Linked DNA regions of Homo sapiens: region 2 is linked to region 1. The links come from fine-mapping of genetic effects on gene expression. Tissue or cell type: amygdala. Region 1 holds a variant in brackets; the other region holds the start of a gene. All regions are shown on one strand. Distances are from middle to middle.

The links. PIP is the estimated chance that this variant, and not a neighbour inherited with it, causes the effect.
Region 2: it holds the start of ADARB2-AS1, and the variant in region 1 is the best candidate, but not a certain one, in a credible set for the expression of ADARB2-AS1 in amygdala (GTEx, PIP 0.82).

Annotation. Positions count from the first base shown.
Region 1 is chr10:1,649,997-1,658,177 of GRCh38, forward strand. All of the region lies in intron 1 of ADARB2 (adenosine deaminase RNA specific B2 (inactive)), which reads right to left. Among named protein-coding and RNA genes, the nearest start is that of ADARB2, 83 kb to the right of the region's middle. The variant C/A (reference allele first, on the strand shown) is at 3,565.
Region 2 is chr10:1,522,611-1,530,791 of GRCh38, forward strand. ADARB2-AS1 (ADARB2 antisense RNA 1) reads left to right here and starts at 4,020. Exons shown (of 2, transcript NR_033387.2): 1 at 4,020-4,289. All of the region lies in intron 1 of ADARB2 (adenosine deaminase RNA specific B2 (inactive)), which reads right to left. RefSeq lists enhancers at 1-5, 6,908-7,907.

The DNA.
Region 1 (8,181 bases):
ATCATACCTTTTCATAACTACAAACCCTCCCTGAAGGTCTTCCCAAGGTGAAATATCCAAGAACAAGTAGACTGTATTTGCTCTTGCTGTTGTTCCCCATGGTGGACGCTTGCCATAAATATGGTGGTGGTGTCTGCAAGACTGGCTACGTTCATGACTGCTCTCACATGCTTTTCTGAAGCATAGATTAAGTGGCAGCTCTACAAAGAGTGAGATTTATAGCCTAGTTTATGTTTTTTGGGGGTAAGAAATTCTTCAGTGTTTCTAGAAGCTACTTAACCTTGGTTGATGTCACTTAAAGGAGAGGAAAATTCTGGGTTTGCAAGGGGAGCCTCCTGGTGTTTTGAGTAGGTCAGCATCCACATTACCAGATGGTAAAGACACTTTGCTAGGACCTTTGACAAGCTAAGTACTCGAGGGGCTGTGATACTGAAGGGGGTGGAGAATGGAGGTGGCTCATAAATAATGTGGTGCTGGTAGGCTGCAGCCCAGACATGACCACAGCGCAGGGAAACGCACCTCCGCCAGTCTTGGCGAACTTCACAGCACCTTCCCATACAAAAGTGGCAGATACTGATCTAACTGCATCAGAAGTCCTTGCTATCGGTCCGTGAAAGGTCTAAGTTAATCTGTCCCTTACTATCTTAAATTAAACGGGCACATGACTCCACCGACCGTCCACGAGGTCTTTCCTGGAGTGAAGCTTTAATTCTCTGTCCGCCCACTGCAGTCCCGGATAGGGGAGTAAGAAGGTCTGACAGTTAATGACACTTGAGGAAGATGTGCGTGCCTGGAGCTTCTCAGCAGTGGGACATTTGCCCCTAGCAGAGGGTCGAGGGACACTGGCAAATGCTGACGTGGATGTAGCACGGTCACCAAAACCCCGCGTGTCCGAGATGGTGGAGCAGCTTTTCCCGGCTCATGTGAGGGCTGGCCAGCCACACAGCACCAGGCTGACTTTAGCAGCTTGGTCTCCCAAGCCGAGGCTATCTGAAGGACACCAGAGAGCTGCGTTTCTCCTTCTGTGCCAAGGTGAACACACAACGCTTCAGATGTTCCGCTCTCCCCTCGTGAGACAGACGGCCCGGCTTCTGTGTGGCTTTGGGGATGGGAGTGCCAGTCACTGGCCACAGAATGACAAATTGCCTCCCTGCCAATATCAGAGCAGGGACAGTTCTCGCCACAGCGTCCTCCAGATGGGCCCAATTAAACTATTAGCCAATGAGCAAGGTCTGATGGCTCCATTAGGAACCACCCTGTGCTTAAATAAACAGCTCAGAATACATAGTTTCTCCATCGAGCCCTGGCTCGGCGAAGGCCCCATCTGGGCAAGGTCTCCAAGGTTGGCCCTGGCGAGCCCCAGGGGGTGTTGGGGTGGCTGGGGCAGGCCGCCCTCCCTGGTTCTCAGGGTCCTGCAAGCCACACCGCAGTGGGTGATGTGAGAGAGGGGGCAGCACCCCCACCTGCCATGGCCAGGGCCAAGTTCTCCACCAGCTGCACCCCTTTGCTTGTGCACGCCTAGACAACCACACTCCCTGACTGGATGGAACTTCCAGAACCAGCCCCTGACCTCAGCACACTAGTCCCTTGCCAGCTGTCTTTCCCACATACAGAAATTTCAGGCCCGTGCTGTTTGGCTGTTCATCATTTGTAATTACTGCCAAGCAAGGGGCACATTTCGTGCAGAATAAATGAAGACAGCAGACAGCGAAGCGGGGCCTTACTGCCTGAGCGTGGTGGGCGTGACTCTCGGGGGGAGCGGGGGCTGCCTGCTTATGGGTGCTGCTTTCTCTCTGCCCGTGAAGGTGACCATCACACAGGCCCAGGGCCCCTCAGGGCTCTTCTCACCCCCACACGACCCAGGGTTGGTTCCCAGTGGGAGCAGAGCCTGCCCAGGAGAGACCGCTATCTCCACTGGTCCAGCTTACACAAAGATCCATCGAAAAGCATCAGTTCTTGAGAAAAACGACACTATAAATAAAATGGTTTTCAATACAGAGAGCTGGGCTCCATCAACCCTGCTGAGATCCTTGGGGACGGGGCTGCGCCTTTCTCTTTGTGATTATGGTCACTGTATTCCAGTAATTTGGGTGAACTCTGATTGGCCATCCAATATCTTTGATGTTCTAGGAGGTCACACACTGCAAAAAGCAAAGCGGGTCTGTCCCCTGCTTGCTTCTATTGGGAGGGGCCACCTCACGCCCTGCAGCACAGCCCTGGCCAGTGACAGCTCAGCATGGCTGCCCAGTCTCAGCTTTTAACTGGGGCATCTGTTCTGCAAATGCTCCTGAGCACCCACTGTGCACCGGCCCTGCTAGGGACGTAGCAGTGACCAGGACTGCCAAGGCCCCTACTGGGTTTAATTCATTCCGTGTAATCTCAGGCTGCTGCCAGCTCCCGGGAAGACCAAGCCATCTGTGCTCCTCCCGGGAGCATCCCACTTCCTTTCCAGAGCTCGGGGCTCACCTTTTGGATTCTGTCCTCCTACCACTGACATCTGCTCTTAGGGGAGGAAGAGAAACTTCCTCGGGGGGCAAATGAGAAATAGCTAATTTGTGCGGTGTGCAAAAGAAAGTCATTGCTTGCTAGAATTGTTGCTATGATTTTTCCTTATTCATTAATTTCCTTTTGCTACTGGGTAGCATATTGTTGTTCTTGGTTTGTGTTGACCTTTTCAGTCCTCATGAAAACAAGCCGTCCTGAGGCAGGCCTTCTTTGCACAGGTCAGCATCAGCAAGGAAGGCTCATTACCCATTTTTAATGCAGTTAGATGGTGCTGAACTTGACTGTGTGCTTTCACTCCAAGATTTGCCCTCTTATCACCCCCCAAGACTAAGGTCTTGGCCTAGGACTGATAAACAAACCAGCCGATCCGTGACAGTGATGGAAGGGTGCGTGTGTGCAGAGTTGGGGGGCATGCACGCTTTCTCTGCTCTACTCCTCTTCTGCCAAGGCCAGTGTCCTCCCTGAGATGCCAAGCCCCTCAGACGATGGAGGCCTCCTCCCCCCTGGGATCCTGATGACAACCATCTCAGGCACCCAATCACAGAGTGCTTGGAAATGGCCACTTAGAGCTTCCCTGCAAAAGGGTGGCTGATCCCAATGTGAGGCTGTTGTTGTCTCCAAGGGCCACCTTCCCACGGAGGTGACTTGCACGAGGGTGTCAGCGTCCAGGGGAAATATGGGGCTGCTGCCACAGCCTAGAGACAGACAGGAGATGGCGAGGAGGGAGACTGGTGCCCAGGCGCTGGCTTGCCTGGGGTCCCAGTCATGGCAGAAGGACTTGGGGAGACAGCATGGAACAGGAATCCCTGCTCAGAGCTGCTGTTGAGACACAGAAAGAACCTCCCTTGCTGGTGTCTGGCAGAGGGTGTTGATGACAGTCCAGGGGCATGAAGAGGCTGGGGTTTGAGGCTGCTGTAGGCTCTGTGGGGTCCCAGGAATGTTGGGGGGCCCAGGAATGTGCCCACTTTCAATCTTGGTCAGCGCTCTCCACCCGACGCCTTGTGTGCCTGCAGAGCCGCAGTCTCCACCAGACGCCTCGTGTGCCTGCAGAGCCACAGT[C/A]TCCACCCCACGCCTCATGTGCCTGCAGAGCCACAGTCTCCACCCAACGCCTTCTGTGCCTGCAGAGCCGCAGTGTCCACCCAACACCTTCTGTGCCTGCAGAGCCGCAGGGTCTGGGTTTTGTGGCACCACATGTTCGGTCTCATCTCCTCCCAAATCCTGTTAAATTTCCCTGAATTTAGGACCAGGCCCAATGCCATGGACACAGTAGACCCTCAATAAATGAGTAATCAAATTGATGGTGAAGAACTGATTTTTTTTCCTGTTAACCCTCCCTAGCAGGGTTTTTATTAATGGGGTTTTCAGCAGCTTGCGATTGAAAGGCCGCCTTGCCCCAGGGTACAATGAAGTCAGGACCCCCAGGAGGGAGGCTCCGTGTGGCTGGGGGAGGGGAGTAACAGAATGAGCATAAAATCGCAGGGAGATGCCCCACAGCTGCCCCGGGGGTCCTGGGGGCTGGCTCTGTGGAGGTAGAGGAGCAGAGGTGCCTTCAGCATCCGATGCTCCTGCCTGTGTCTGGGTCTCCTCTCCACGCCTGCTCCTTCCCCATCACCCTGTTCTCTGTGGCCATTGCAGGTGTTGTAAGCCACATCAAATCCACTTGAAATGGGGTGAAATGAATCTACCAATACCTGAATCAGTCAGTAGCAACCTGAGGTGATCATGTAGTTTTCTGGTTGCCTGAGGCTTGCATTTCAGGCTCAGCTTCAACAGGTTCCAGTGGCCATGGGGACAGGAAGTGCACGCCTCCCCCGAGGGTCTTAGCTCACCCAAGGCTGCAGTGTGAGGGCCACATTTCCTGGGGGCCACCCCATGGCACTGGCTACCCCAGGGGTGCTGAGACAGGCCTGTTCCTGGAGACCACCTAGACCCTCCAATATCACCTGCTTCTGTCTAAGCTCTGAAATCCCCTTCCGGCGTGGTGGTGCCTCCCCTGTGCAGCCCCACCCAGAACCCCTCTTTCCACCTGTGCAGTGTGCCCCAGCTTCCCCGCAGGGTGGCAGTTCAGGGCTCACTCCCCAGCTTCCCACTTACTGCCCACCTACCCCTCTAGACAGAGGTTCTGCCAGGGCGGGGCTTTCCTGTTTCCTTTGGTTCTGTCAGATCCCAGCATGGACCGATCCCGAAGTGCAGTCCCTCAGAGGGTGGAGTGGGCATTTATGTGGGCTATTTGGTAATGGCAGCAATGTCGCCTCTCCCTGACGACTCTACCAGGTTGGCCCTGCATGCTTCTGTGTGCTGCAGGTGAGCTTGGCTCATGGCTGCTGATCACTGCAGCCCCTTCCCAGCCACACGCCAGGCCCAAGGTGATGCATGCTGGGCCATGCCAGGCACCTGTGATGAAATGCTCAGTTGTGTGAAGGTGCTGGCCAGCCCACGAGAGCTGGAATGCCAGAGTCACATTCAGTTACAAGGTGGAGCCATCAGCACAGCAGGCAGGCGTGAGGGTGAGGACGCGGTCGGGAGGAATCTCACTTCCCCTGCAGACCCTTGGGAGAGATGCAGGGGACACAGGGCGAGGACTGGGAGGTGAGGTTCCAGCAGGGGCAGGGTTAGCCCTGCATGGGGCCTTTCCTTGAGGTTTCTCTGTAGGGTGTCCCCTGAGCCCTGAGGCCACACCCCTTGGCTGCTGAACCTGCCTGTGCTATGACAGTTCATTGTCCTGGACAATAAGGCACTAGAACAGAGGGGGTGTTGATAATTAAGCCAAGCTCCATGCTGTGGAAAGCGGGTGCCCACTCAACACCCCAGGGTCTAAGGGGACGTGGCAGGTTTCACTCCCAGACTGGCCCTAATGCAGAAGAGAAGGGAGAAACCACCAGGTTCCCACATTGCCATCCAGGCATCTTTTCCGGGCTGAGTTTTCTGCAAGGCTTGTCGGGTCCATCAGAGGTAAAAACTGCAACGCACACCTAATTATACCTAATTTGCTATTGATTAACTATTTATTCTAACAGAACCACTGTAAAACTGTCCTGTGTGTTTAACTATCAAAATAAAGGAGTGCTGGCACCTTCTGCATTTTCAAACATTCTATGCTCTAGGTCAAAGTTCAGCATTTTTATTGACTCTAAACAGGAGATGGAAAACCACATTAGAAAAAGTGGAATTAAAAAAAAAAAGAAAACTGGAAATGCCTTTTTATTAGAAAATGGCCTCATGGGCATGGCTGGCTTTCAGGAGTAAGTTCATGGAGGATCCCTTTTGATGTGTCAGTACTGGAACAAGCGAGGTTTTGAGTATTTTCAGTAGCATCTTTGTTCAAAGTTAATCTTGTGGATATCAAACCACCTCTTGGAAGGAGGAAGAATATCTATTTTCATGTTTACATTACAAAAGAGCTTATAAATTAGTGGGTTTCACTAAAAGTTGTATTGAAGTAAGCTGTGGGTTTTGTGTGAGGTGTGAGGTGTGCCCACACACCTATATATCTCGTTTATCTAGCTTCATCCAGACAAAACAGTGTTCACATTTAATTTTTCAGATAACTGAAATAAAGCTGTCTAAGAGTAAAGTCTTTATAAAATTGTAAGCACTTTTATTAATGCACTTCTGGGATATTTTTCTTACTCCCCCTGCTTTTGAAAACAGAAACTACATCATAACGTAATCTTTTAAAGGTACTACATCGCCAAAATGGGCATCAATTAAAACCCTGGAAAGTAACTTTGAAATAATCCCCCTTGTGTTAGTAGAACAATGTATGCTCATCTGGGGCCTCAGATGACGTCGAACCTAGGGACTCATGGCGTCTCCTCCACCAGGAATCCCTGCCAGCCTCCCAGGGTCCACGTGTAATTCTACTTTTCTCTTCTGCCATGACTCCTAGCCCAAAGACAAATACTTCTTTGCAATCTCATATTGTGCTAATTTTACAACATCTGATATTTTTGGGGTGGTATTAGATAGCTTCACTTTCATACTGGTTGAGAGGTTGGGGGAAAGAGAGAGAGGGAAAGAGAGAAAAAGGGAGAGAGAGAGAGAGAGAGCTGCTAATAATATACAACTCTATTCCTCTAGTGCGTGGTCTTGTGAATGACGCACACTTGTTGCATAAAAGGCCTTTCTCTTCATATTGGGGTGTTGGCTATGACTTGAGATTTGGGACTCTCACGCGTCTTCATGTGGGATGTGCCAGCTTTGACTCTGTGACTAGAACTGACTTCTTTAGGCCAATGTGCTCAAAGATAATAATGGTAATTAATCTTTTTTTAATGTGCCTATTATATATGGGAAGGTTATCTTAAAATTAAAATTATCTTCAAGGCTTATTTATCCTGTTGCCCAGAGAATGCTGTGGATTTTTTTTCCATGCCATGAAGTAGAGGCATTAGGATGGGCCAGAAAAAAACAAAGCAAATTCCTTCAAAGATAAGATACTTTAAGTTGAAAAATCAAGGAACTCTCTCTTCCTAAAGCAGTGGTACCCATCTAGTGTTTTGTGTGTGTGTGTGTGTGTGTGTGTGTGGTGTTTAACAAAAGTTCTCATAAAACTTAGGGTTTCTGATTAACTCAGTGATGCCAAATTCTATTTTTTTTTTCCACAACGTACACCATAGAAAGCATGCAGCCTTGTGAAAAGTTCGAAAAGAGGTCTTCAGATTCAGAGTCTCCAGGTGGCCAATTTCTTCTGATCTAGATTTTCAAAAAAGTATGAAAGCAGCAAAAAGTTATTAAGCAAAGCTCAATGGCACAGCTCAACTTCAGTACGTTGCTTCTTGTAGTACTGCAAATTCTAATTAATGGCTTGCTCATTGCACACAGGAAGTGAGATTTAGCCTAGGGAAAAGAAAGCAAGGAGTAACTCAAGGAATTTGATAAATCATATTTTTTTATGTTTAAAATTCCTTCTTTTTAAAAGCGGTGAAAATGTAACACTTTCTCTTCCTCTTACTGGAAATTTTCAAATAATTTTGTCTTTCCTCCTCTCTTGGCCTCAGACAGATTATGGAGATAATGCACTCACCATCTCTCTCCCCTCTGAAGCCACGGTTTCCTGAAGGTCTCCCATTTCTGGAGTCTCTCGAGGCCTCCAACAGAAGGCAGCATCTCCTGTGCTGCAGGCGGTTACCAAGTAACAGACCTCAGAAGCCTTCCAAGGTCCAAGGATGTAAATGCAGTATGTCCTCTAAGCCGAGCGCAGGGTGCTGGAATCCGAGAGCCAGGGGCCATGGTGAGAGCTTCCTTTGCTGGGAGGCATGGATGGGATGAACTCCCTGGAGGTGGAAGGGCAGCCTCCCTCCCGGTCTTTCTCTCCTGTCTCTCCCTCTCTATCTCTGTCTCTGATTCTCTCTCTTTCTCTCTGCTCTCAGTTTCTCTCTGGTTCTGTTTCTCCCCGTCTCTGTCTCTCTTTATCTGATTCTCTGTCTCTCTTTATCTGATTCTCTGTCTGTGTCTGCCTCAGTCTCTCTCTATCTCAGTCTCTCTCTCTCTTTCTGTGTCTCTCTGTCTCTTATCTGATCCTGTGTGTGTCTGTGTATCTCTTCTGTCTCTACTGTCTCTCTCTGTGTCTCTGTGTCTCTCTGTCTGATTCTCTCTCTCTGTCTCTATCTGATTCTGTCTGATGCTGTCTCTCTCTCTCTCTGTATCTTATTCTCCCTGTCTCTCTCTGTGTCT
Region 2 (8,181 bases), 130 kb before region 1:
GTGGTCCAGTATGTACTAGGGACTCTTACAGACACATGCCAACCCTACACATGTCCCTCTTCTCAGCAATCATTCCTCTCCTTCTTCCTTTGCCCGTTTATACGTTAGTTATTGAACTCGTGGATCTTAGCCCCATTTTTCAGTAGCCTCTAAAGACTGTTGCACTTCTACTTCTCAGAATACTTCCGAGGTCCTCAGAGGACAGCGTGCCTGCAGCTCAGGCCAGGCCCCTTCATGCTGGGCTCCAAGCTCACCATGGCTCCTAACCAGACACCTTGTTTGTGCCGCTCCAGTCCCCATGGCAGGAGCGACTCCTCTCTCTCACCAGTGCGAGGATCACAATGTTATTGCTTATAAAGCCCTTAAGCTCTCTTTCAGGTGAGTTTCAAATCGTTATCTCCTTACACCCAGCAGACAGATGTGAGTCCGCTGCTTGGTGACATCATCCTTTTGTTAGAAGAGCACCGACTCACGTTTCTATAGCAAATCGATAACACTATGTGACAAATCCAAAATCGACAATGGCTATTTCTTAGCTTTAGGTTTTATTTTTCTTCAGAGAGAAACAAGTATGGCAAATATCTGTGAATTTCTGTTTAATCTGATGACAAATTAATTAATAATGATAACAAATGGTTATCTACTTAGATATGTAACGTAGGCAGTGGAAGTAATATTTTATCCGAACATTAGAACCAAGATTTTGTGTAAGTGCAAGAGGACATAGTCTCCACCCCACTGTGTTACAGATCAGGAAGTTGGAGGTGGCTCGGTTACAGGGTTAAGTTACATGCACGTCACGCAGCCCTGAGCTGGGGAAACCAAGAACAAAGCCCCTATGCTTGCTGGGCCATCCCACCCCCTCACATTAGATTTGCTTAAAGAACCTGCCAGAGGCTTCGTCTGGAATAGCACCTCGGTCTCATTCATCTCTATCACGAGTTTCTGCATTTTGACCATGAGCCTGTTCCAACATTTCAGATTCTCCACTCATCATTAAAATAACTTTATTCCAACCTTGCAGCTTCCAAATTAATACTGACTCTTTCCTTATCAGAAACAAGCAATGATTTAGAGTATCACTGAAATAAAATCAAAATGTTTTACCTTGAGGCTTAATTCTCTCTAAAATCTAGTCAGATGCTCCCCATCCCAGTTTCACCATTATATCAGCACAAATCTTGAACATTTCATTTTCTAATCTGTCATCCTTTTAATCTCCTATTTTATAAATGCTCTTTTCTGTATAAATGGCCTGCATATTATAAACAGTATTGAATAGCTTGTTTCTTTCTCTAATCAACCTGATCTGTCTACTCAATATCCACCCATGCATCCATCCATCCATCCATCCATCTACTCATTCATTCACCTATTCATTTTTTAATTAAGCATTTCATTAATTTATTCAGCACTTACTATATTCTAGACAGTATCCTGGGGATATGAAGATAGATAGATAGATAGATAGATAGATAGATAGATAGATAGATTAGAGAGAGAGAGAATAGATGATAGGTAGATAATTCTTTGTCACTATCTTTAAGGTACACAAAATTTTGTAGGAGAGTCTGAGACATACAAACTTCTTATAATACAATGAATGTATTTGGTGCAATAGAGCAAAAATAGGGTCAGGACTTTATGACTACTAAGCCTCACAGGTGTTTTGATGCCTATGGAATCACCACATATAAGTCCCACTAATTCAGTCGCCATTTGTGACTAACGTGTCCAATACTCAGTAGGAAAGATATAAAAGAAAATAATTAGAGTTCCTTAATATCTCTTTGGTCCACCAGCAGGCATCCATGTTTGTGATCTTCTGGGCAATTTTCAGACCTGCTGGCATCACAAGTTCCTCCAACCAGACTTGGATAATGGGTCAATCAGCAAGAAGCACTTTTCCTGAGCCCAAGTTCTAAAACCTCCACAGCAACAGCCCTAATGAAAAATGTAGTATCTCCCACTTCTCCTTTCTATTGCCTTTTTGTTTGGTTTTCACAGGAATCTATTTCTGAGTGTTTGCTGTAGGCAGACACTTTCCTCATCTCCACCTTTGATTACGAGAACAGCACAGCCCGGTGGCTGCCCGGGGGGAGGTGGTAGGCAGGGTCAGAGTGCACACGCGCGTGTGTTCATGTGTGCTGTGTACAGGTGCTGTGAGGGTCCAGGAACTGCTGGCTATCACAGTGAGCGGTGACACAAAGGCCTGTAATTCTATGTTGAGAATAATATTTCCAGCCTAGAACTAGCAGTCTGGCTGGAATGAAATACACAGAAAATAGTCAGGATAGTCCAATCTATGTCTGAGCCTCCAGATTTAAAGATAGTTTATATCCACAAATACATACTGCTATGTCTTTTTACCTTTCCATTTTCACAGCTAGCTGCCAATTTAAGTAAGCATCCTTGCTTTAGTTAAGGGCTTTAGTAATAAAATAATAATAATAACTTCACGAACAGGAAGAGATTCTATAAATCCTGAGTTTCATGCCAGGAAACCACCCCAGAAAACACTTTTTGTACTAATAGCTGTAAAAAAAGGTCAGGTACCTGACTTAAATAATTGCTTTCCTTTTTGTATGTTTGGGGGAGGAGGAATTTCTGGTTCTACTTGTAACACGTGCATATGAGGTTACACAAAGATTTCTTTCCTGGAAAACTGGAAATAAGCATAATCAAAACTGTAAAATGATCAAATACTGGTGCAATTATTTTCTTCAGGAATCTCACGATTTCATCTGCGGGAGTGGATCTGAAATCTAAAATCTGAAAACATTTATTTCACTTTATGATTCTTTTTATTCCACATTCTTCTCTAATTTTTTCCTTGACTGAAACATTGGTATCTCTGTTTCTCATGGTCTCTCTTCGCCTCAGCCGTGCAGTTCTGTGGGTATCTAGGGGGCCTTTTCAGTTCAAAGTACATCAGCAGCCCGACGCTGGTGGTCCACGTTTTCCTGTCGGCTCTGTGGGTTGCATCTGTGTCCTGTTACCTCGGAGGGGTTGTATGTGCGTCCTGAGAGGAAGACAGCCTGGGAAGACAGGGTGGCTTGCAGAAGACGCCCACCATTTGCACAGAGCTAGCCGAGGCAGCTGGCCTGAACATGTGTGCATGCGTGTGCGTGCATGTATGGGTGTGTATGTGTATGCTCATGTGCTTGTGTGTTTATGTGTGTGTATGTGCGTATGTGAGCATGTACGTGTGTGCGCATGTGTATGTTCATGTGCTTGTGTGTGTGCGCGTGTCTGCGTGCGTTTATGTGCGTGTATGTGCATGTGTGTGAGCGTGTATGCTCATGTGCACGTGTGTCTGTGTGTGAGCACGTATGGGTGTGTGTGCGTGTGTGCTTATGTGCGTGTGTGCATGCATATATGTGCATGTGCATGTATGCACGTGTTTGTGTATGTGTGTATGCGTGCATGTGCATCTGTGTTGAGGGGCTGTTGCTCAGGAAGCGAGGGACAGGGCATGTCCTAGGTAGAGACAGCTTTCTGGGGAAAGCCTTGTTCTAAGGCAGCAGGGCGGTCTTGCACTTGCGCGGCTGCTCCTGGGATTTGGAAAGGACACAGGTGGGAAGTTGGAGAGATGGCCTGGGGCAGGTGGGGTAGGTGGGGCAGGTGGGGCAGATGGGGCAGGTGGTGCAGATGGGGCAGTCATTAACGAGCATGCCTGGAACCCCATCCCTAGTCTTGTAGAGGAGGCAAGGAGCTGTCCAACTGTCTCTTAAGAGTGGCACAGTCAGTGCTATGGTTTGGAGGTTTGTCCCCTCCAGATCTCATGTTGAAACGTGATCCCCAGTGTTGGAGGTGGGGCCTGGTGGGGGATGCTGGGGTCAGGGGTGGATCCCTCACGATTATCTTGGTGCTGTCCTCCTGGTTATGAATGAGTTCTTGCTCTGTGTGTTGCAGTGAGAGCTGATTGGTAGGAAGAGCCTGGCCCCTCCCACCGCCTCTCCCACCACGTGATCTCTGCACAGGCCGCTCCCCTCCCCATCGGCCACGAGTGAAGCTTCCTGGGGCCTCACCAGATGCAGATGCTGGTGCCACGCTTCCTGTACAGCCTGCAGAGCCATGGCTGCACAAACCTTTCTTCCTCATAAATCACCCAGCCTCGGGTGTTCCTTTCTAGCAACACACACGGACTGAGCCGGATGACATGAAGCAGCTGTTCCCGCCTCCTCCTGGCACCTCCCTGACTCACGCACTTGGTGCGTGGAGGGGTCGTGAGCGGGCACAGGCAGCCACTTCGCTGCTTGCCTCATCAGCCTCACAGTTCCCCACAGGTGAGTCCTGGCATAGAAACATCCCCTGCATCTTAATTTGCATTTGTTAATAATTATGTGAAATAGAGAAAATAACTTATTTGTGCACAGCTCTGACTTCCAAACGAAACCACTCCAGCTTTTTGGAAGCTTCCGCATTTGGGGATGATATTAACCAAGTGACCACAGACGAGAGAGGCACTGCCCTTCTCTTTAACCCAGAAACTGGTCAGGAGCCTGAGGAGAATGACAAAGGGAAAGAATTCTTACAGGAACTTCTCCCTCCGCTTCCCTCAGTTTAAAACTACAGTGCTCGCCACAGAATCTCACTTCCAATTCCTTGTGGAGAACTGCTTCTTGTACTTATCGCATCCTCATTTACGATATGACTCTGCTAGTATTTTAAATACATGTCTAGCGTTCCTTATAGAGACATTCTCATCCCCACATAGATCGGTGGTTATGAGGGAGTTTTCTTTCCTATGCCTAGGATTCTGTTTTGATGATTTTTACGGGGTTTGCTTACAGTAGTAACTCAGCAAACTGCCTGATGATATTTAAAAACTTCTTCCTCCTTGATTTTCATTTTAAATCAAGCAAACACAATAATCCACAAAAACTAAATTAAAATCAATGCCCTTAACATGACTGGCAAGAAGAATGCTGTTTCTGTTGTAAGAAGACTTGCTATACATAACAGGATGATTAGAAAGACTTGCTGTAAAAAGACTTGATATACATAACAGGATGATATACATAACAGGATGATTAGAAAGTTAAAAATATAATATTGTGAGATGCTATTTGGTTTGGTAAGACGGGGGTCAGATAGTCTATCAGAATAATTTTCTTCCGTTTGATCACACATCTCATCAGAGGAGCAGGAGAGCCGTCCAGCGTGAGATATTTGAAGGGGTGTTGGCAAGAACATCAGATGGACGACAGGGGAGAGGGGCCCAGCTGCACGGGGAGAAGCCGATGAGGGATGGGTCTTTGCTGTCATCAACATTCATAAATTTATCATTCTGGATGCACAAATTAAAATTATTCACTAAGCAAGAATGCCATTGAACTGAACGTTATAAAAATCCTGGAGTAAGTAGAAAAATGCCAGGCTGATATATCTGTGCAGTAAGAGGCATATAATTCTGCCTCCATCAATAACAGCCCCCACACTTTATGGACTCCCCTCTTGGAGGTGGCTGTGAATAACCCGAATGCATGTGCAGCCTCTCGACAAACTCGTGTCCGCGGCTGTGGGCTACGTTCTCGCCAATGGCTGTGTCTTCGGCCAACACACCTGAGCTTACTGCATTAATGTTACTGTGCGATACAGCAGCTCCGCGCCTCCTGTGAGTGCCCGTGTTCACTTCCTAAACTGCTGGTCTACCCAGATTTTTAAAGGGACATATCAAATACTGTTCCTCCATTTCTGGTTCCTTTCAAGCTGCGTTGGTATCGATGTTTGGAACCCCTGGCCACATTTCATATTTATGTAACTGATCTGACAGTGCACGTGAATCTATGAGCAGTTACTTATTGAGTCCCTGCTGTATGTGAGGCTCTCAGGAAGGACTTATGGATGCGCCAAAGTACTGCTGATGATAATGGTGTGAGGAACACACTTTTACTCCTGTTTTATAGAGGTAAACCGTGGTATAGAATTTCACGTTACTTGTCTGAGGTCTTTGGTCATCCCAGCAGCGCCCGGTGTGAGCCCTCTCAAGTTCTCCATGGTTTTCCCATCACCCACACCCCTCCTGTCATGCTGGTTGATGGCACTCTTGCCCGTTGGGTGAGAAAGCCCTTTCCTGGACAGGTGATGCCCTTTGTAGTGAAAACAGTTAGATGCTGTCATGTTTGGTCAGAAGCTGAACCACAGATTTTAGAATGAGGCAATGATGGCCTGAGAGGGAAGTGGATTCTGTTGACACCAGCAGAATGTGTGGAATTGGGATTTTGAAAGTGTATTTACCCAGTGGCATGTGGTCCCAAGCGGGATCTGCCCTCTATGAGCTCCAGACTGGACTCGTCCTGCCCCTGTGGTCTGTCCCTTCCTAGGTTCCCACGGTTCTCTCTTTCCCCACAATGTAGCTTTGCTTTGGACTAGTTTTTGGGACAAGATGTTGCTTGTGAGGTGGGTCTGACTGCAGGAGCCAAGCAGCACCACCCCAACAAATCCTCCAATCAGTCCACCCACCATGCCCAACACCAATCCTCCAATCAGTCCACGCACCATCCCCAACACAAATCCTCCAATCAGTCCACGCACCATCCCCAACACAAATCCTCCAATCAGTCCACGCACCATGCCCAACACCAATCCTCCAATCAGTCCACGCACCATCCCCAACACAAATCCTCCAATCAGTCCACGCACCATGCCCAACACCAATCCTCCAATCAGTCCATGCACCATCCCCAACACAAATCCTCCAATAAGTCCATGCACCATCCCCAACACAAATCCTCCAATCAGTCCATGCACCATGCCCAACACTGCGAGTCCCCCACAGATTGAGGGGGAAGATTAGGGAAGGCGAGGACCTGAGAAATCTGACTCCCTGGGGTCATCAGCACCCACGAGACATCTGCCTGAATCCGCCCCTGCACAGTAGCTATGGCCATCCTTGGCCCTGGGCCCCACACCCTTCCACTCTTCCGATGCAACGTCACCTCTCCTGTGACCCCTTCCATAGTTTTCCCCTCACCGACACCCTTATCACCAGATTCTAAACATTTTCAAATCTCCCCCATTTAAAAAATAGCCCTTGTTGGAGCCCCTCTGCCCCTGCAACTCAGTAGCTTCCACGGGAGGGGGAGGCTTCCCCAGGAGACAGAATGATGTCAGCAGAAACTATTGGTTGTGAGACTTGCGGGCAGTGCTGCTGCATGTAGAGGGCAGAGTTCAGGGGCACGCGCAGGGCAAAGGACAGGGTATCTCCACCACCAGTGCATGGCTGGGAAGCCGCTCTCTGCTCCCCTGTGACTGCGGGCACACGTCCACTGCCCCCTGCCACCACGGACACCCATCCACTGAACCCTGCCACTGCAGGGACCCATTCACTGCCCCTGCCACTGTGGGCACCCATCCACTGCTCCTGCCACTGTGGGCACCCGTCAACTGTCCCTGTCAATGTGGGCACCTGTCCACTACCTCATGCCACCATGGGCGCCTATCCACTGCTTCTGCCAGTGCTGGTACCTGTCCACTGCCCCTGCCAATGCGGGCACCCACCCACTGCTCCTGCCACCTTGGGCACCCGTCCACTGCCTCGTGCCTTTCTCCTCTGCTCACCTGTTGCCCCTGCTATGGGATGTGGAGCATGCAGCCGAGTTGCCCGACCGAAACGCCCCTCTCAGAGCTCAGTGAGGGTCTCCCTCCTGGCACCCAGGTGAAGGGACATTGTTCAGACCTCATCCTGCATGGCCTCTGCCCCAAGGCCTCCCACACCCACAACATTCCCTCCTCCTGAAACACTTGCGTCCTGGGTTTCCTCATCCAGTTTCCAAACCCAGCACCCGGGCCACAGTCACTTCGTCCTCCTTTCTCCAGCCTGCCAGGTCCTCGTGAGTGCGTCTCACTGAATTCTCTCTCTGCACGGCCACTGCTTCAGCCAGGGTCACGTGGCCTCTGTGGGAGCCACAGGACGAGACTCCTTGCGGCCTGCTCTTCATGCGGAGCCTGAGTGGGCTTTTCTGTTCATCAGCCTCGTCCGCCCCTGCGCCCAAAGCCCTCCATGCACACCGACCGCTTGTCGGTTTCTAGACAAGATCCGTTTAGAAACAGTATGTGGGCACCCCATACTCTCCAAACTCCTCTCAAGTCATGGCCCACACTCTCCCTGCTCACGGCATCTCTGGGTTCTCTCTCCAGCTCACTGAACTTGTTTCGCATGTATGCCTTTGCCTT